2 linked regions of the Homo sapiens genome follow. The main gene of each other region encodes a partner of the protein of the gene in region 2 in a complex. Each region holds a gene or a part of one and is shown on either strand. Other genes may lie near its edges.

Region 1 (10,879 bases), on a different chromosome or scaffold from region 2:
CAGTGAGAGTACCTGCAGAGAAGTGATACCTACAGACATGAAAATTAATAGCGAGAAAAGAAAACTGAGCTTGGAAGAAGCCAAGTTAGAGAGCCAAATAAGAAAGGAATTTTGAAGGAAGAGTTATTAGCATGGAAGTCAAAGAGAATAACAACTGAGGGAAGGCTTTTAGTTAGGCAAAGAATAATTAACTGGTAATTTTTAAGACAGCAATTTAAGTGGAAAGGAAGAAACAAAACAGAAGGAAGGAAAATATAACACAATGGAAGCTGAGCCTGAAGACAATTTGCCTGACTGCATTGTAAGATCAGATGAAGGCATTTTTAGCATGTACTTTTTTAAGCACAGAAAAAGAAAAAGTGGTAGAGGGAGACAGTTAAAAATATAGAAAAAGAAATGATCATATTTAGGGTACAAGAATGTATGCAAGCATTCTTTATAGAGGCCATCTCATTTTCTTGTCTTCTATAATACACAGAAGGCTGAAACAAACAGGCTTATTCATTCATTCAGTATTTAGTTGGCACTGTTATTTGCTGTTAGGGATTATAGACATTAGTGATGCAATAGTGAATAAAATTTACAGAATTTCTGTCCTCATGGAGTTTACTATCTAGTGGACAATACAGATAATAACAAGGTAACTTATAATGACAGAATACGATAAGGGCTTTGAAAGAAATCTAAAGATGCTATGACAATAAAAAAAAATAGGAGAATCTAATTTAATTCAGAGAAGACATCTTTCAAGCAATGTCACTCTTTTTTTTTTTTCTCAGAGGCAGGGTCTTGTTTTGTTGACCAGGCTGGATGGAGTGCAATGGAGTGATCGCAGGTCATTACAGCCTCAAACTCCTGGGCTCAAGCGATCCTCCTACCTCAGCCTCCCAAGTAGCTGGGACTACAGATGTGTGCCACCTTGCCTGGATAATTTTTAAGTTTTTTGTAAAGATGGGTTCTTGCTAGGTTGCCCAGGCAGGTCTCAAACTCCTGGCCTCAAGCAATCCTCCCAAAGTGCTGGGATTACAAGCATGAACTACTGCGTCCAGTTTCACTCTTGCTCAGATCAGAAGATGAAGGGTCAGCAAGCAATGACTGGGAGAGGTCTTCCTGAATGGGGAAACAGTCTGGGCAGTGGCCCTGAGGTAAGAAAGCTCTTGAGACAAATTTGATAAACTAAAGAAATGGAGCACAGTGAGGGAGGTGGGAAGATAGGCATGAGAAGGTTGAATTTTTTTTTCAAAGTACATAGGGAAACCACTGAAAGATTTTAAGTGGTGGAACTAATGACCCAATTTAAGTTATATACATATATATTTTATATTTTAAAGATCATTCTGGCTGCTGTGTAAAGACAGAATTAAGGGGAGAAGGAAGAAGCAGGCTACAGTCGTAGTCTAGGCTTCATCTGAGGTAGTGGCAGAGAAGACAGAAAGACATGGATGAACTTCTAGATATACTTTAGAGCCAAAATGGCTAGGACTTAGTGATTAATGTGGTTTAGGAGAGAAATAGAGAAAATGAGGATGATTTCTAGGTTTCTGGCCCAAACAAGTGTGTAGATGGGCCATTTGCAGAGACGGGTGGATAAGAACATTTGTTGTGGTGTTTTTTTTTTTTTTTTTGGTATGTTAAGGTTTAGGTTTGTCTTTTAGGTTTGAGATATTTATCAGGCACCAAGTGGAAATGTTAAATAGGCAGGTGGATATACACAAACCTGTAGTTAAGATAAAAGGTCTGAGATTAACTATATACTTTTGGGAATCATTACTTTAGATCATGTGGAAATGGAGGACACTAAGAATACAGAGAAACCTAAGAGCAAGCACGAGGAACTCCAATATTTAGGGGTCAGATAGAAGTGGAAGAGCTAGCAAAGACACTGAAAATGAAAGGCCAAATGAGGGAAGAAGAAAACAAGGAGGGTGTGGCAGGACAGAAGTCAAGACAAGGGTTCACGTCAATTGTGTTAAATGATGCCTAGAGTAATGATTGACTCTATAGTTTCCAGTTTAGCATAGAGAAGAACAGCCGCAATAGGTATTTAGTGAAAGAGAGGTGTGGAATGAAAACAATGTATGCAGATAATTTTTGAGAAGTCTGGCTGTAAGGGGGAACAAAGAAATGATGGAGCAGGTGGAAGAAGGAGGGCAGTTTAGGAGGGTAAGATTCTAAATCATGTCCATATGTTGACAGAAATGACCTAGCAGAGAGAAACCATACCAGATGATTCTGTTATTCTAAATAAAATATTAGATGAGGTCGTCAATAGCTGGGGAAATGTGAAATGTGAGTTCCCTACATTTACAAAATAATGTAAACCATGAAAGCCAAGGTTTATGATTTGGCAGGAAGGTTACAAAAAGCAGTGATAAAAGACAGGAAATCAGGTCGAGCCTCAAGGGAAATCCAATCTAAAAGAATTACTATAAATTTAACTAACTATTGCAAGGTTAGAAGGAAAGTGCTAGCAAATTGCAAACACTTGACTGAAAAATGTATTTAATTCACATATAATCCCCTCATCCCTGCTAAATATCTACTTTAAAATCTTATAAATTATATACAAGTTCAATTAAAATATGTTTAAATTGCCTACCCAGCCACTGTTAGGCACTGAAGTTCAGCTGCAATTCTTATAGGATGACTTGTTGGAATCAAGTGTTTTAGAGCAATTTTCTCTTCAGGTCCTACTTGTAACTGTGCTGTGGCCAAATAAACAGAGCTGAAAGTGCCTGTAAAACAATTTATTAAATTTTTCAATATCTGGTTTTTAAAAATGTTAATGAAACAATTCTAAGATAGATTGTAAAAACTGTTTCAATGGCATAATACATTAAAACAGGACTTCATTTTACAGTAAATATTTATTATTTATTCTTTCTTTAAGGTTGAAAAAGAAAAGCTGTTACCATAATTAGTAATAAAACTATGGTCTTAATAGTCTAAAAAGTGGTATATTTTTCAATAAGAAATAGTAATGAAAACCAAGACTAAAAAAGGAAAATAGAATGGAAAAAAGACCTCGTAAAAATAGTAAAAGCATATCCCCAGATTACCTTCTCCAATTTTGTCCTCAATCTTAAACACATTACTAAGCTGTGGTACAGCTTCATAAAGCTTCTCAATATCTTTTTTAACACCTTTCAAGGAAACAAAAATTTAGAGTTTTAATCAATGACAGTATATTTTACAGTTTCTTAAAATTTAAAAAGCTCAATGAAATAAATTATAAAATATGAGTAATTAATTATACATAAGTTTTAATAACATTGTGATAAGATTAAAACCCATCAAGTTGCTATAACTCACACACACCTCTTGAACAGACAAAAATGACAGTCCCAGAATTAAATACACCAAATTTCTACTATACTGGAATTATATACTAAGAGATACATTGTTACTGTAGAGATTACAACATGAAAAAGCACCAAATTTTTAAAATAACTAAACAATTTGTGCTGTGATCACTAGATGGCATGACAAGGACACATTGCGATGTTCTTGAAAACTATTTCCCGTAAAGATACAAAATCTTAAAGGCTTGGTAAAATTTTATGTATTAAATATTCACACTATATTTTCAGAGAGAAGGCCTACTAAAGCTCTCAAGCATGTAAAAAAGTATTTTTAAAAATTTGTCCCAATTGCCAGTAGTATCCTCTATCCTTGACTGCAGATAAATTGCTACTTTTAAATAAGTATCAGTTCTTTATAAAAATGTACATAGTTAAAACAAGGGGAGGCAATAATACAAAACCCAGTAAACTACTGGATACAGAAGAGAACTAGATAAGTCTTCAGATTTTATTACAGTATCTAGGCTCTACTAGCCCTATATAGCATAAGTTTAAGACATTTTCAAAGCACCGGCACATGCAGTATCTTTTGAGGTCTTCCTAACAGTACTGTGAACTTGGCAGAGCAGGAATGATTATCCTGATTTTTCAGATAAGGAAACTCAATTCAGGGAGGTTAAATCATTTGCCCAATTTCACAGAGGTGTTGCTGATTATATATATTTTCTAATTTTCTTTCTTTTTTGAGATGGAGTCTCACTCTGTTGCCCAGGTTGGAGTGCAGTGATGTAATCTCCACTCACTGCAACCTCTGCCTCCTGCGTTCAAGAGATTCTCATGCCTCAGCCTCATGGGCAGCTGGAATTACAGGCACGCAACACCACGCCCAGCTAATTTTTGTGTTTTTAGTAGAGACGGGGTTTCACCACAATGGCCAGGCTGGTCTTGAACTCCTGACCTCAAGTGATCTGCCCACCTTGGCCTCCCAAAGTGCTGGGATTACAGGTGTGAGCCGCCGCACCTGGCTAGAACTAATTCATTTAAATAAACGCTGTCTTAAAAAATGCTCAGCAATGGGTATGTAAAAAAAACCAATAAATTTGATGCAGCCACTAAGAGCTTGGTCTAGTAAAGGAAACATGTTATCATTCTTAATACAAGGTGACACCTGTAATAAAAGAATGTATATACTACTAGGTTGGGGAGGATTTCTGAAGGTGATAGGAAGCCTTCAGTTGACAGCTAAGTTTTGTTCTGAAGCATTCACCAAGTAGTGAAAGTGGAAGAAAACATTTTAGGAAAAATTAACTACGTCTGTAAAGACAGGAACAAGAAAAAAAAAAGGCTTGGATGATTAGGGTAGGGGGAGGGCTGAGAGACAATGAAATACAATGTGGCCTGGGGCGGTGGCTCAGGCCTGTAATCCCAGCACTTTAGGAGACCAAGGCAAGAAGACTGCTTGAGGCCAGGTGTTTGAGACCCTATCTCTTAAAAAAGCTAAAAAACAAACAAACAAACAAAAATTAGCTGGGCTTTGTAACACGGGCCTGTAGTCTCAGCTACAGAGACTGAGGCAGAAGGATACCTTGAGCCCAGGAGTTTGAGGTTACTAAACTATGATCGTGCCACTGTACTCCAGCCTGGGTGATGGAAGAGGGAGACCCTGTCTCAATAATAATAACAATAATAACAATAATAGAAATAGAATGTGGCTGAGGAAGACAAGAGAGAATGCACATGAAAGCTATAGGAAGTTTTTAAGCAGAAAAATGACAAGTGGAGAACAGATGTGAAAGGGAGGAGAAACATTAAGGGTACTTCCACACCACTACTCACTTATTATGCATCTACTCCTCTTTACAAAAATCAAAATGTTTATTAAGGTTTCCTGTCACTTCAGAACAACTTCAACAATTTTAAACAACAGTAAAACTTCCTGGCAACCAAAGTGAATGCAATATCCTCAAATTCTGAAGTGGGAAATGACAGCAGAAAGCAGAAAAGTGCATTCATGTCAAAAGCTGGAAAACAGTACTAAAGACAGACAAATGAAACAGACTTTGAGGACTGGAGGAGGATCCCGAAAATCTATAATATGCTAAAAATTATTTAAATGCCTCTATTTTATACATGAAGGTCTAGGCTTCTATTTTGACATTTTAAGTCACTTTTGTTTTCTGCTGCATAATATATCCAAGTTGGTTTTAATATACCAATAGTCTCCTTAACTACACTCCTTGCCAGCCTGGAGTCTATCTGTAACATAGTAGCCAGTCGGCTTGCAACATAGCAAACAGAGTTTAAACAGAGTATTCTGATAAAGCTAAGTCACCTTGTCACTATTGTGCTCAAAACCTCTAATGGTTTCACATCTCACTCCATTAGAAAGCCTCTTTACATCTCTCTTTGACTTCATTCCAATTACCTTCCCCATTCTAGCCACAATGACCTCCTTGCTATTCTTGAATGCTAGGCACACTCCCATCTCAGGGTCTTTGTACTTGCCGTTTCAGGGTCTTTGTACTTGCCGTTTCCTCTGTTTGGAATGCTCTTCCCCAAATATCTGCACAGGTCACTCCTTCACCACCTTGAAGTCTTAGCTCAAATGTTACAGAAGGCTATGAGCAACCATACTCACTAAAATTACAATCTCCTTCCCCAATACTTCCTATCTCCCCTTCCCTTTTACATTTTCTTAGTAACATTAATCACTTTTGAGCACAGTATTTACTTCTTTTGTTTACTCTCTGTCTATTGTCTAACTACCACAGTGTTAATTTCTGTTTTATGGTTTGATTTATCCCTAGCACCTAAAAAAGTACATGTATATAACAGACAATAAATATTCATCACATAAATGAAACGTTTTCAATATCTTGTCATGGATTAAAACTGACACTCTAGGCATATAGTCATGGTTATTCTGGGGCTTCATGTACTCTCTGGTTTATACCTCCTGGAACTAGGGGATAATACATAATATAAGCCCAAACTGGGACACTCTTGAGTGAAAAGGCAGCAGGAATAATAATTACATTGTGACAATAGCCGTAAGCTAGATCTGTCCCAGGCAAACAAAGATGGTACCCATAGCCCATTTTAGAAGCATGGCTAAGGGTGTCATTGTAGCAAACAGAATGAAGCAAGCCTTCCTTCCAGTAGAGTTCACCAGTATGGAGGAGACTTTCAATATAGAGTTTATACATCATTCTTTCACTGAACAGATCTTTCTCACTTATTAAAACTTGGCATATAGTAGATACTTAAAAAAAAATAAAAGCTTACTGGCCAGGCATGGTGGCTCACACCTGTAATCCCAGTGCATTGGGAGGCCAAGATAGGAGGGGATCACTTGAGGCCAGGAGTTTGAGACCAGCCTGGGCAACATAGCAAGATCCTGTTTCTAAAAAAAATATTTAAAATTAGCTGAGTGTAGCGGCACATGCCTGTAATCCAAGCTACTCAGGAGGCTGAGGGGGTAGGATTGCTTGAGTGCAGGAGTTAAGGCTGCAGTGAGCTGTAATTGCACCACTGCACTCCAGTGACAGTGGTGTGACAGAGAGACCATGTCTCAAAAAAAAAAAAAAAAGCTTGCCAAAACAGTGAAAGAATAAACATTTGACCAATATTATGCCAGATAGTTTGTGCATTACAGCATTTTTCTTAATAGGAAAAAATAGAAACAATCTATAGGGTCAATAGTAAAAGGTGATTGAATATATTATAATATAATATGCAATGGACCTTAAATCCAGTTGTAGAATATTTACTACATGAGCAATATTCAAGATATATATTAAAAAAAATGGAGATCAGAAATAAGATCCCATATTCTGGTTCTCTTTTCAAAAACAAAAACAAAACAAGATCCCAATTTAGTTTCTAAAAAATGTACCTATGTATGCCTAGAAAGGCTAAAGGAATATAACAAAATGTCAACAGTGGCAATATTTCAATAATGGGAAAAGACTTTATTTTGGCTTTCTTTACTTCAAAAATTTCAATAATCATGTTTATCAGAAAAATGTTATAAAAATCTGACAAATATCTCAAAATAAAGAGACATGCTATTCATCCATTACACTAAGTATTTTACTTTATATCCTTACATTAAATCATTCATTCAAATATTTTCAAGCACCTACTATGTGCTGGACACTGTTAAGCTCTGGGAATGCTAAGATATATAAAACATCCAATCAAAAATATAACTTCAATAAGGAGTAAAGTTGATGAGGTGCAGGCATATACCTGTCTCATGATCTAATTTGATTTACTTTCCCAATTAGATTACTAGACTGTTATGTGCCTGGACCTCATCAGCTTTGCTCCCTATTGAAGTTATGTTTATATAACTTTAGCTGTTATTAAGATCATATTTAAAAAAGAACCATAAGAGTAAAGTTTTAGCACGTTTTATAATTTATCATATTATAATGTCCAATGTTCTGTTACATAAACGCTACAAAACTTTTGAAATCCGTAATAAAATTCACCCCATTCATTACTTCCCAGCAGATTTTCAGAATATTAGAATAGTGGCATTCTCCTAAACATGATGCTAGAACCAATTCAGAGTCATCCATTCAGATACTCTGCTGAAGTCACAACATACTTTAGAAACCAGAGGAGATACTGCCGCCAAGGGGTTTACAGTGGAGACAAAATGCAGAGTCCTAAGCAATAGAAAAAGAATACTACAATGACTGTGTTACTGTGTTATGTGTCCAGTGACTAGTAAGGGAAAGATGAACTAAAAAAACAGCTAACTGCTGGAAAAATGGAAAGGAAGAGGAACAGTATCCATGAAACTGGATGAAAGTGGCATTTTAAGATTATTCTAGCACCAACATACAAGATGAACTGAAGAATGGAAAAGTGCAAGCAGGCAGCATAGGTGAGAAACTGTTGTAAATCAGGAACAAAGTGTAAGGAAATTAATTAATGTGGTGGAAATGGGAATGGAAAGAAGACACAATGCCATACTTACTAAAAAGAAATAAAGCTAGGTGACGATATGGGGAACAAATAAAAAGCATCAGCTGAAGATTAAAGTTTCAAGTTTAGGTAAGTGGGATAACTGACTTCCATCAAAGCAGAAAGTATGTGATGTCATATTTTTCTAGGGTGGGGTTATAAAGAATATATGGACAAAAGGTCAAAATAAGTATCTTTTAGACAAGCACAGAATTCACTTAAGACAAAGATGGGAAAGATGATCTGGCTACCCTTTCAGAAAAAAAAAAATACAGTCAACTAGAATTCCTCTATTTAACAAATATTTATTATTAACAAATACCTACTATGTCCCAGGTCCTGTGCCAGAGCAGAAATGAAGGTACACATGCGAGTGTACAAGAGCAGGCACTGCTTGACCCTGTCTTATTCACCCTAAGGTCTGGTTTACGGTCAAAGAACATTTCATGCTGTACACTGAGATATGGTGCTTTATTATTGCTACAAACATTTCATATTTTTTTGTCTGTGAGTTCTGCTTTTGAATACTTAAGTGATGATCTCCAGTGTCAATTTCTACATTTAAGCTTAAGGCAATGTGGTGAGTAGAGATAAGAACACAGATACAAAAGAGAAATTTAATTTGGGCATCATCAAATTTCTGCATTCTTAATTACCAATACTGAGACCATAGCAACTTCAACCGTAAAACAGGTTGTATTACAGTCTTCCAAATCGCAATTCAGTCCTACATTTAGATCATACGAAGCTCTGTTTTAACACTGTCCTATAGAAACATACAATTCACTTTATAAGATTCAATCTTATTTTTTGAGAGGAATTGAAAACACAGAATTGTTGCCTGAAAAATCTTTATAACTGTACATCTTTGGATTTAAACACGTACCTGCAAGTTTAAAATTCTGCTCGTTTTTTTTTAAAGAGCCTTCAGCCTGAAACCGGTCACGCTGGGGAGAAAAAGCCATTGGCTCATCCATCTGAATCCCCAAAGACGCCTCCATCACAAGCCAATTGAGATGCAAAATGCCAGCTAAGGGGTTACATCCACAGGGGGAGCAAAGCAGCTGTGAAAATTAGAACACTAGAGAAATTTAGATCACTCGCTAAACCACGCACTAAAAACATGCTACTGCCCCCCAAAGGGGCAAACATTTTCAAACGCACGATGTGTCCAAACCTCCACAGTAGGGCATACTGTGGCCTTGTCTAAGGAATTCCATGTGCTTTATTTTCACCTATCAGAAACACCGGCAGGGGGCTGCAGGGAGAATTTCCCGGCTTGGGCACCCGCGCAGCAGCAGGCGCAGTGGGAAACGGCGAGGCTGCCAGTCCGGCACAGCCAGCGGGACCGCGTGGGGGAGGGGCCGAGCGCCGGGGGCGGTTTGAAGTCAGGAAAAGAACTGAGGGAGAAAACCTTTTCGCCACTGACAGGAAGCGCCAGGAGGCTCGTCCAAGGCCCCAAGCAAGTTGACGGAGAACTGATACGACCCTGGCCACGAGTACTGGGCGGAGGAGGAGAAGGGTGAATGAATGGGAATCCGCCGGCCAGCGCTGGCCGCGAGCTCAGCCGGGAAGGACCGGCTTCCCTCGGGCCAGAGACCGAACCAGATGCTTAGTGCGCAGGCGCGCGACTTTCCCGCCGCAGGTCGGAGGGATCCGAAGGGGGGCGGGAAAAGGAACTGCACGGCGAGAAAACCGAAGTCACGATCCAGAATTCGTTCCTAATCCCTCACAATCCCGCGCCATGGAACAAACCGTCGGAAACTCACGGTTTAAGGGAGTACGACTTCTGTGGCTCCCCAGATGCCTGGGTCGCCGTCTCCAAGAGATCCCCACCTACCGAGTCGATCGGATGCGCCTGCGCAACACTTCCCGCCGCCGCTCTGGTTGCACATGCGCACACTAAAGCCCTCGACCCCGCGGATTCCGCTACTGGGCGTTTGCGCAAGAGGGTGGGGTTTCTTCCCGCCGCCTTGGCCAGCTAGAAGAGCGGTTACGGGAATGAAGCCCGTGGATGATCTTAAAAAACAGGGTGAACCATAAGGCTAAGGGCCCAGCATGATTTCCAGGAAAGAAGCTAGCTCAGAGAAGGAAAAATCTCAGGTGCTGACACATCCCTATATACGTGGCCGGCCGCACAACACATTGGGCACTCCATGGATAAAAGGCACTTTCTTGACTCTGCTTTTATTTCCTTTTCGTTGAGTGCCCTACTTCCCCGTTAAAAACAAGCAGAAAATGTAATTGCTGATTGTTTGTGGCTGTGTTAGTAGAAATTAGCACAGTGGCAGGAAGGCAGTGTATACTATTTACTGAGCCCTTGGCTATGAGGTAGGTGGGTTTTTCTAGGGGCTGGAATCATAGTGAGCAAGATAAACACCATCCCTGTAGGAAGCTAAATTCCAATGAAGCGATGACAATAACGGATGAATAAATGAACAGTATTCTTTCCGGCATTGATTACTACTTGAGGGAAATACTGACCAGGAAGGTGGCATCTAGATGGTCAGGGAAGCCCTCTCAAAGAGACCTGGATGAGAAAGAGCTGGTAGGGAGACTGTTGTCCTGGCAAAGAAAGGATAGGGCAAATGCAGAGAGAA
Region 2 (10,816 bases):
ATAAGCTGCTAACACTTAAGCTGTCCGTGGATGGCAAAACTGAAAGGGCACTGTATCATTTCCTCTGGGGCTTCAGGGGTCACAGGCATCCCTCTCCTAGATGCTGCCACAGGGCCGGTACAGTTTGCTCTTGCTGGCGCCCAAAAGCACTCGCCCTAGCTTCTGCATCCACTCACCTGCACTCCCCATCATGTGAGGGGTGGAACAGCGAGTGAGTAGAGTTTGCCCCTGCCGGTGCTCATGCACTCCAGTTCCCATGCATGAAGGCGTCAGGGAAATACCGTGATTCAATGATACAGGCTGCCATGCTGTGAACTGCCCTATGTGGAGGCCCATTCGGGCAACAAAAACAGCCTCCAGATAATAGCATTGAACTGAGGCCCTTCAGACCAACAAGCCAAAGGAAAGTGAATCTTGCCAACAACCCCTAGTGAGCTTTAAATTAGATCCCTCCCTGGTTGAGCCTTGAGATAAATGCAACCTCAGCCAACACCTTCACTGCACTGTCCTGAGAGATCCTGAGCTTGCTTAACTAAGCTGCATCCAGATTCCTGACACACAAAAACTGTGAGATAATAAAGATTAGTTATTTTAAGATAACTACATTTTGGAATAATTTGTTATACAGCAACAGGTAGTATCTATTGAGATGATACATACGGTTTTTCCTTTTTGGTCTGGTTACATGGTGATTTACACTGCTTGATTCCTGGAATAAACCTCCATTTACTCATGATGTTTTATCCTTTGTATATAGAATTGGTTTTCATTTGTTAAATTTTTGCTAAGAATTTAACCATCTATGTTTATTAGGGATGCTGATCCATAATTTTTTGTATCATCTTTGCCTTTCTTAAAATGCACATGTGAGAGAATTCACCAGTGAAGCTATCCAGACCTGGAGTTTTCTTTAGTAGATATAAGAATATTTAGGTTATTTCTTCTCCTGTAAGCTTTGACAGTTAGTGTACTTCAAGTAATTTGTCCATTTCATTTAAGTTGTTGAATTTATCAGCATAAGGTTGTTCATAATATTACTTTGTTGTCATTTTAACATCCATTGGTTCTGTAGTTGTGTACCTTTCACTAATTTATTAAAGATCTTAATAAATGAAGAAATATTACCATTTCATAGACTGGAAGAATAAATGCTATAAAGATATAAATTCTTCCAAATTTATCTATAGATTCACAGGAATCATAACCTCTTACTTAATCTTCTTACATAATCTTCTTACTTTTGTGGGTTTGACAAACTCTTTTCCAAAACTTACATGGAAGTAGAAAATGGCAAGAACTACCTAAAGTTTTGAGATGCAGCTAAAGCAGCATTTACAATGAAATTTATAGCATTACATGCTTGTATTAGAGAAGGCCTAAAATTAACTATCTAAGCTAAAAACAAAAGAGCAAATTAGAACCAAAAGAAGAAGAAATGAAAATAAAAACCAATAAAATTGAAAGCTGAAAAACAATAGGAAAAAACAATAAAAGCTGGTCCCTTGAGGCAAAAGAATAAAAAATAAATAAACGTCCAGTCAGATGATAGAGGAAGAAGAAAACCTTTGACAACATCCCACACCCACCATGACTGAAAGGCTTGAGCAAGCCTTTCAATCCTTTTCAATGAAAGGGAAATTCCTCGGTTTGATAAGAACCATTTACTACTCTCATCATTTCTATTCAACAAAGTACTGAAGAATTTAGCCAGTACAATAAAGCAAGATAAACAAATTAAATGCAGGCTGGGCACAGTGGCTCACGCTTGTAATCCTAGCACTTTGGGAGGTCGAGGCTGGCGGATCATCTGAGGTCAGGAGTTCAAGACCAGCCTGGCCAACACAGTGAAACCCTGTCTCTACTAAAAATACAAAAATTAGCTGGGCATGGTGGCAGGCGCCTGTAATTTAAAGTGAACACACTTAGGATGTCTTCAAGGGCCTGATAATGCTGAATTTACCCTGGTTTCCCAGCCCACAGTCACCTGAGACATTAACTACAGTTCCACAGCCACTAACCAATCCTATCCTTTCATGCACTTAGCCTGCAAAACTAAGAATTTAACCTTACATATAACCTTAAGCCCTCCAATTCACCAGGATAGTGAGACTATGAAATGTGAAAATTAATAAAAATAGATCAGAACACATTTCAGAAGACGACATATCAATAGTTGGCAAATGAATCAAACAGGAATGATTATACCCAAATGAGCAGGAGATAAAGGATGAATCTAAGCTAGGTTTGCTATGGACAGGAAAAAATAATTGCTGAGCCAGGTGAAGAGGCTTAGGCAAAAGAAAGAAAAAAAAAGTGATAAGTACTACAAAATTAATTTGTCTAGATTCTAGAACAAAAAATTTATATTTGGGTATGTGTGAGGTAATCTGAAAGATCAGATTAGGTCTCTGATAATCACAAAAAGTTGTGGAGTAGACTGAACAATATTATCTTCATTTATAGATAAGTAAATTCTAGCATAGAAAGGTTAACTTTTTTTTTTTTTTTTTTTTTGAGAGGGAGTCTCGCTCTGTTGCCCACGCTGGAGTGCAGTGGCGCAATTTCCGCTCACTGCAACCTCCGCCTTCTGGGTTCAAGTGATTCTCCTGCCTCAGCCTCCTGAGTAGCTGGGGTTACAGGCGGGGACCACCATGCCCAGCTAATTTTTGTATTGTTAGTACAGCCAGAGTTTCACCATGTTGGCCAGGCTGGTCTCCAACTTCTGACCTCGTGATCCGCCACCTCGGCCTCCCAAAGTGCTGGGATTATAGGCTTGAGCCACCGTGCCCAGCCAGAAAGGTTAACATTTGCCCATGGTCACAAAACTAGTTAGGGACAGGGCCAGCAATGAATAAAATTCATTTCTCTTGATTCACAGCCACATATTCATTTAATTAGATCATGATTCTGCTCAATGTTCTCCAATTTTGCCTAATATAACTCTTGAACAAAGTTTCTCACCATAAATAACCCTGCCCCCATTCACTTCTTCTTAAATGTCTACCCTTCCTCTGAAGAAATGTTTTCAAGCATATTTTCAAGATCTACTTTAAGACAAACCCTACCCTCTTACCAACAGACCTGATTACTGGACAATAAAAAGGAGGTTTCTATCCTTACTGACTACAGCCATATCCTTTCTGTGGCTACTAACAGATTTAGGTTCCAGTAATATTTTAAAAACTAACCTTGGATAATAGATTAGAAAATTACTAACTATTGCATAAAGCGGACTTCCTGCTTATTTATTGCTTGGAATTACCATCTTCAGTGCAGTCGAGGGTGAGTCTAACCGCATAGGGTGCAACTATGTTACTGTCCTTCCTCTTCACGGCAAATAAGACACACAATTCATCTTTCACAAGACCATAAAATGGGACTTCCTTTTTTAAAAAAAAGTTCCTCAATAGAAGCATGCTTAAAAATCTTTCCCACATCCTCTAAACCTTCCAAAGATCCAGTCTTCCCTTCATTATACTTTCCTACAATAACAAATTTTTTTGAAAGAGTACACTCAACCTGTCTGAACTTCAAGATTATAATTTTTATCTAGTACTGTACTTATCTCTGCCACCTACTCAAATTACCCTTAAGGAAACCAAGGATACCTGAAACGCCAAAATCAAATACTTATTTTTCAAGTCTTAACCTTATCTGTCCTGGGGATGAAGGAACTGGTGCAGTGTTCACTAGAATGATAGTAATTATGGAGCTCTTAAGGAGCTCTACTCTGTGCCAGGCACTGTACTAAGCATTCAAAAATGTTCATTTAATCTTCACAACATCCCTGAGAAGTACTACCCCCTTTTAATAGATTAAAATTGGGGCTCAAAATTACCCAGAGGCCAAGTAGTTAGTGAAGCCCATATGATTCCAATGTTTGCAGTCTCTTCCCAATTCTGTGGCATTTTCTCCATCTCTTTCACTATTTCATCAACGACGCTTATAATCAATTCTCTTATTTCACATGCTCTCCTTGGCAATTTCATTTCCTCCCAAAGCTTTAACTACATTCTATATTAGTGCTTCCCAACTTTTTAAATCTTTCTGTAAATATAAACATTTTGTGCTCTCTGTAGCTTATATTTTGAAAATAAGTTTTTTCCCATAGAAATTACAATATTGAATATGTTTGTTCAAACTACACTTCCTTCCACCACTCAAGATCTGTTAACCTCTAATGAATTGCCCCATGATTGACATCAATAGACCTTGATGCAGAAATATTTTATTGGAGAGATATCAAATCAATCTCTATTTCCTCTTCCCATGTCCACTTCTGCTAGACATTTCTCTCGAGTCATAAACATCTTTAACTGTCTAATAAGCATAGTTCCATGACTGTCGCCCCAGGCCCTTCAACATAAACCTGTCTAAAACCAAACTCTCATTTCCCTTAGCAAACCTGTTCTCTGCGTTCTCCAGCTAATCTTGTCACAACCCACCCTTGTCTATTCTTTAAGGTACCTACCTGCAAAACCGTAACGCTGATACTCTGACTTCCTTGAGCTACCAGGTAAAAAAATCAACCACTACAGGAGTGCCTATTATGGCCTGGAGTAGAGGAATGCAAAATAGTTCAAAATATCCTCTTCCTCCTGAAGAAACAGATTTTTTTTTTTTTTTGGAGAGGCATGTTCCAACTTATAAAATTAAAATATATTCACAAGCATTTTAATTTGATCTTTAATCTCTGTTTTACAGGAAAAAAAAATGAGATGTTACTTTCCACTCCTTCATTGTTGAAATAAACTTACACTCAACTAAAAGAAAACAGGTCTGAATACAATAAAAGTCAACAGGACAGCGCAAATAGCCAACTACCCAAGGACACAAAGTGACCTGGAGGCGTTCTGCGGTGGCGCTGCCGTCAAGGCCGGGGCCGCCTGGCCAGACCCTCCCTCAGACGCCCCCCGGGGCCGCCCTCACTCCCGCACGTCCCTCTGCAGCTGTCCTCAGCCGGTGGGGTCGGCAGTGACCGCGGGAAAACCCCGCTTGCTGTGCGACCCAGGGCGCGCTGAGCAGGGGCTGCGGCTGCCGCCGCTGTCCGGCTCCGGTTCCGGCCCCGGCCCCGGGCCCGGCCAGAGCTGAGTCCGGACTCAGCCAAAGCCCCTCGCCTTCAGCTTCCCAGACGTCCGACCAGTGGAAAATTAGCATACCTGGGGCAGAAGGCAGCTGCAGGGCCGGCAGTCCTGGCAAACCTAGAAGGCGGGAATAACCCTGGTGACGGGCGGGGCCGGGCTCCGGCGCTAACTGCATCCACTAGGTTTGGTCAACACAGAGCCGCGCCAACTCTCTGAGGCTGCGCCAAGACCTGAAGCGGCGGACCGAGAGCCCGGGTCTGAGACTGAGAGAGCAACGGAATGGAGGCGGGGTAGAGGCGGAAACACAACCTGCAGGGCCAGAGCGAGGCGCGAGAAGGACGGCGGCGTGAGGGGGCGGGGCGCGCAGCGCGAGAAGGCAGGCACGAGGGGCGAGCGCGAGGCGGGGCACGGCGCGTGGCGTGAGACGGGGCGGGGCGCGCGTATCGGCGCCGCGGCCGCGTGACGCGTTTTCAAATCTTCAACCGCCGCAGCCCACTCGTTTGTGCTTTGCGCCTTCCTCCTCCGCGCCTTGGAGCCGGATCCGGCCCCGGAAACCCGACCTGCAGACGCGGTACCTCTACTGCGTAGAGGCCGTAGCTGGCGGAAGGAGAGAGGCGGCCGTCCTGTCAACAGGCCGGGGGAAGCCGTGCTTTCGCGGCTGCCCGGTGCGACACTTTCTCCGGACCCAGCATGTAGGTGCCGGGCGACTGCCATGAACTCCGGAGCCATGAGGATCCACAGTAAAGGACATTTCCAGGGTAAGAAGCCCCTCCTCCGCCTGCAGTCCCTTTAATCCTTTCCTCCCCTCGTGGTTCCACCATTGATTCTTCAGACTTCTCCCGCCGGGTCCTCAGCTTCTTTTCTTCTGACCGGCCTCTGGGGTCTGAAGGAAGGAGCCCCCGTTCAGTGTTTTGCCTAAGAAGGAACGGATCCTGACCCGGCCCCTCGAGCGCTCTGCCGTTTACAGCGGCGGTCCCAGATTGATTCCCGGTCGTGCCTTCGGTTGAAAACTAGCAAACAATGTGCAGATCCGGGACCTCGCCGGGACTGCGGCGCTGTCTGCTCCCGGGCTCTCGCATATGCTAAGCCTCCGCCCGGGCCCTTGGAGGCGACGGACTGCATCCTCAATTTAAAGTCAGACGCGCTCGTGGCTTTTCGCTTCAGGATTAGATTGAGTGATTGTGGGTGGATTTTTGGTCTTACCCTTGAAAGTTTATTTTCCTTTCCTCATAAGTTGGGGGAAAGCATTGTATTTCAAACACCCCATTGCTGGTTTCAACATTACAAACAGGGAAACAAAAGCAAATTTCCATTTTCAGTCACTTTATTTGGTGAAACATTCCAGCACCTAAGTTTTTTGTACAGGTGTTTGTGTGTGTGTAGTAACTACCAATTTAAGAACAGATTGCGTTTGAAAAATTAATTTTTAAAGCAGTTGCTTGGATCTCAGATCTGTTTCTAATGAAAATAATGAAAGGTTTAGTTCTTCGTAATGGACCGTTAAGTTCTTAATACGTAGACAAATTGTATGTGAAATGGACCGTTTAGTTGTTAATATGCAGACAAACTTTATATGAAACTAAAACTTGAGCAGTCTGAAACCCTTGAGGACTAGGTTATTCTGCGTAACAGAGGATTCTTTCATCGCTAAATGAAGTTTAAACACCAGTTTTGAATGTTCAGCAGAATGGCAGATGCTCAATAAATAGTTGAGTATTAAATATCCCCATGGAGTTTACATCCTAAAAAAAGAAAATCTTTCAAAAGAGTTTTATATAGTTCCGTGCCTCAGGAATAAACACACGAATATTTCTTGCTGAGTCAACTATTATTTTACAATATGCGGTCTGTGAAAGTATATAGGGCATTTTGCCTCTATCCTAAGTAGTACTACAAAGAAATACATTTCAATGCTAATAACTTAAACTGGTAGGGTTGTAAGGATTTTTATTCTGTAATATTGTATAATGAAATATTTTAAAAATAGTAAAAGTGTCTGTGTAAAACATCTGATTCTAAACATCTTTAATAGGTGGAATCCAAGTCAAAAATGAAAAAAACAGACCATCTCTGAAATCTCTGAAAACTGATAACAGGCCAGAAAAATCCAAATGTAAGCCACTTTGGGGAAAAGTATTTTACCTTGACTTACCTTCTGTCACCATATCTGAAAAACTTCAAAAGGACATTAAGGATCTGGGAGGGGTAAGTGAAAACCGTACACTGGCATAGAAGGAAAAATTTGTAACTAGTACTTTCTACTGTGTAATCATTTAAATTTTTCATTTTGGAAAACGCTTCTATTAGCACCAAGCTTAACATTTTTATCAGCTGTTTATCGTTAACAAAAAACCATTTGTTTTAACCTTTTGTGGACTGACAGACCTTTCAGGTTTCTCTGATTAGCAGTCTAGTGTAAAGTTCTTAGAGTGTAAGACTCCCCTGTCCTAGTGGAACTGCTCATTGACTGCTTACTGTAATGTTGGAATGTCCTCCAGATAACAGCAATTTCTTGATTATGAATCTTGGGGAGCTACATAAGTTTGTCTGGACTAGTGTAACAGTTAAGAATGTTACTACAGAACAGCCATGCAAACCACAGTTAAAATTGTTCCTGAGTGATACAGATGTTGTTTCAACAGAATGAATGTTATTAAAGGAAAAGAAATTTGCATTAAGAATCTGGAATACCTTCTTTCCTACCTTATACACTGATTAGATGATTGGGAAATTAGAAAACTCAGGCAAAATTCTAGGACCTTAATAGGATTAAGGTTGATATTGGCTGAATTTTGGCAAATGAGGTAATTAAGATTTTTTTCTGTTTAAAAGGTTCATGCTGGACTTTGACTTTCTGAAGGTCTGCGTCTTTGAATGTCTAAACTGATCCTTTCATTCCCAGACTAGTAACTTTTCAATTTATTTTTATTTTTATTTTGAGACGGAGTCTCATTCTATATGGCCTAGGTTGGAGTGCAGTGGTGCGATCTCAGCTCACTGCAACCTCCTCCTCTCAGGTTCAAGTGATTCTTGTGCCTCAGCCTCTGTCTCCTGAGTAGCTACGATTACAGGCATGTGCCACCACTCCTGGGTAATTTTTGTATTTTTAGTAGAGTCAGGGTTTCACCGTGTTGCCCAGGCTGGTCTCAAACTTCTAACCTCAGGTGATTTGCCCACCTCAGCCTTCTAAAGCGCTGGGATTGCAAGCATGAGCCCTCCAGGCCCAGCCGATTCCCAGACTAGAAACTTATCAGAAGAACATGTGCTAACAGGTTTCCTGGAACTGTTAATATATTTTATTTACTTATCTCTGAAAAGTTATTCTACTTTTTTACTATTCATTTTGTTAAACTAAAACACTGTCACATGCTTGTAATAGTTGTATTTATGGTAATGATCATATGACAGCATTCTTAAAGGTCATGTTTTCTAGGCCTGCCACCCTATTGACTATACACCTATTAAGAGTATCTTAATGTGTTAAGGACCTTAGACATTGAGTAAAAAATACCCCTTCATCTTAGAAACAAAGTACTTGAGGTCCAGAGAAAGTAAATGGCCCAATTAGAGCAGTATTAGCTTCTTAATTCCCACAGCAACATAGTACCTGCACCATTCTGTTCCTCTAGCAATCAATGGCTACAAATGGCTATCTGGCTGGTAATTCACACCTGTAATCCTAGCACTTTTGGAGGCCAAGGCAGGTAGATGACTTGAGGCCAGGAGTTCAAGACCAGCCTGGGCAACATGGCAAAACTCCATGTCTACTGAAAAATACAAAAATTAGCCAAGCATGGTGGTGCATGCCTGTAGTCCCAGCTATTCGGGAGGCCGAGGCATGAGCATCACTTGAACCTGGGAGGCGGAGGTTGCAGTGAGCCAAGATTGTGCCACTGTACCCCAGTATGAGTGACAGTGAGACCCTATGTCCAAAAAAAAAAAAAAAAGGTAGCTCAAAGTAGCTATCTGATACAGTTTGATGACAATTTTCTCAAATATGATGAACAACCCATTAACTCTAGGTCTAATGGTCTAAATCAGTGATACTTAGATTTGTGTTTTTATCAGTAGAACCCTTTAAACAAAATAATATTCAGAAGTCCAATGTGTAAAGCCTGTAAAAAGGGAACCCCTTGGGCTAAAACAGCAGTACAGAGGCTAAAGCAAGAACTACTTGCCCCGTCACCTTCTTTCTTCTATCTCCACAGCAGTTCCTGAGGTAATTGCAAGAAACAAATTTTGAATTACTTCTGCCATACATAATAGTTGAGGGACCTTTTGGTTTTACATACTTAGTCTTTACCCCTGAAATGATTGAAGTAGACCAGTGAAGTTAGGAGCATATTAAGGGTGTAAGTTCCCAAATTTTCCTTTGGATTTCCCAAAAATCCAAAGCTGTGGATTTTCAATGGAATTTGATTTATTAACTTTCTCCTAAAAAATGTCTTATTTATTGAATTCTGATCTTCCCATACTATCTTTTCTATAATTAATGATATTTAATCCTCAGGTCCTGGTTTCTGTCTTCAGCACATTTACTGTTTCTATCACTAAAAAAGATTTTGTCATAACGATCTTCTACATGAGTTAATTTATCTTCACATCATTACTTTAGGTGCCTTTTTAATTCACCATTTCACGTACTTTGGTTTCTATAATCTCGGTGAAAACATCTTAATATCCCATTTATCTGCAGAGTATGCTTCTGACAAATTTAACCACTGAGAGCACAGCACCCAGATTCTGATATAAAGGGGAAATACCTTTAATAGTGCAAGAAAAGTAGGTGTTACAGAACCATCTAAGGAGGACATGGGATCAGCCACAGTTAGGTCCATGTCTAAATAGTTTTGGCTAAAATAAGGCAATTGGAGAGGAACAGAAATGTAGGCCGATACCTTGGCGTATTAGCTTGAACTGTAAAATGTTTGATGTTCGTCATGATCACCTTGAGTCATCAGAAAATACGTTTTGAGTTTACTCTTTAAATGGCATAGATTCAACAATATCTAATACATTGAAGACCCTGGTAAAATTGATTCAACAAATGTTTGAGTATGATGTGCACTGCACTCTGTGTTTTGGTAGATTCAAAAATGAATCCAGCCAGGCTCGGAGGCTCACGCATGTAATCCTAGCACTTTGGGAGGCTGAGTTAGGCGGATCACTTGAGGTCAGGAGTTTGAGACCAGCCTGGCCAACATGGTGAAACCCCATCTCTACTAAAAATACAAAAATTTAGCTGGGCATGGTGGCGCACACTTGTAATCCCAGCTACTGGGGAGGCTGAGGCAGGAGAATCTCTTGAACCTGGGGGTTGGAGGTTGCAGTGAGCCAAGATTGTGCCACTGCACTCCACCTGGGCAACAGAGCGAGACTGTGTCTCAAAAGAAAAATAAAATAAAAAATGAATCCTTATGTCCATCCCATCCTCATGTTCTAACCTAGCTAGAGATGACATTGGTACAAGTAATTGTGTTAATAATACAACATAGAATGTCAAGAGAAAGGAGAGATTAGTTCCAGCTGAGGAATTGTGGGTTTTGTTCACACACAACTGGAACACGGCTTTGAAGAATGATGAAGATTTGGGCATGTGGGAATTCATTCAAAAATTATTCCACCACTGTCTCCAGTATATCAGCACTATTTTAGATCCTAGAGATACAAAAATAAGTAAAATATAACCCTCTAGGTATTCTTTGTCTAGTGGAAACCTCAGACAACTGAAT

Evidence for each region.
Region 1: the proteins of DBF4 (region 2) and CDC7 are in contact, whole or in part, in a crystal structure (PDB 6YA8), measured with the Homo sapiens proteins. Residues at the interface, in NP_006707.1 of Homo sapiens: Thr210, Arg211, Thr212, Gly213, Arg214, Leu215, Lys217, Pro218, Phe219, Val220, Lys221, Val222, Glu223, Asp224, Met225, Ser226, Gln227, Leu228, Tyr229, Arg230, Pro231, Phe232, Tyr233, Leu234, Leu236, Met239, Pro240, Ile242, Asn243, Tyr244; in NP_001127891.1 of Homo sapiens: Asn56, Val57, Phe58, Ala77, Gln78, Leu79, Gln80, Ile87, Ile93, Pro94, Thr95, Ser96, His97, Pro98, Ile99, Arg100, Ile101, Ala102, Leu105, Gln106, Thr109, Lys121, Tyr122, Cys123, Phe124, Arg125, Asn127, Asp128, Val130, Leu143.

The regions. Positions count from the first base shown.
Region 1 is NC_000001.11:91,500,118-91,510,996, reverse strand, and holds the start of CDC7 (cell division cycle 7-related protein kinase), read right to left. Parts: upstream 10,147-10,879; 5' UTR 10,049-10,146; exon of another isoform or gene 9,344-10,048; 5' UTR 9,281-9,343; coding exon 9,166-9,280; intron 3,144-9,165; coding exon 3,060-3,143; intron 2,736-3,059; coding exon 2,600-2,735; intron 1-2,599. UniProt on the Homo sapiens protein: Kinase involved in initiation of DNA replication. Phosphorylates critical substrates that regulate the G1/S phase transition and initiation of DNA replication, such as MCM proteins and CLASPIN.
Region 2 is NC_000007.14:87,870,937-87,881,752, forward strand, and holds the start of DBF4 (protein DBF4 homolog A), read left to right. Parts: upstream 1-5,556; 5' UTR 5,557-5,796; coding exon 5,797-5,842; intron 5,843-7,116; coding exon 7,117-7,289; intron 7,290-10,816. UniProt on the Homo sapiens protein: Regulatory subunit for CDC7 which activates its kinase activity thereby playing a central role in DNA replication and cell proliferation. Required for progression of S phase.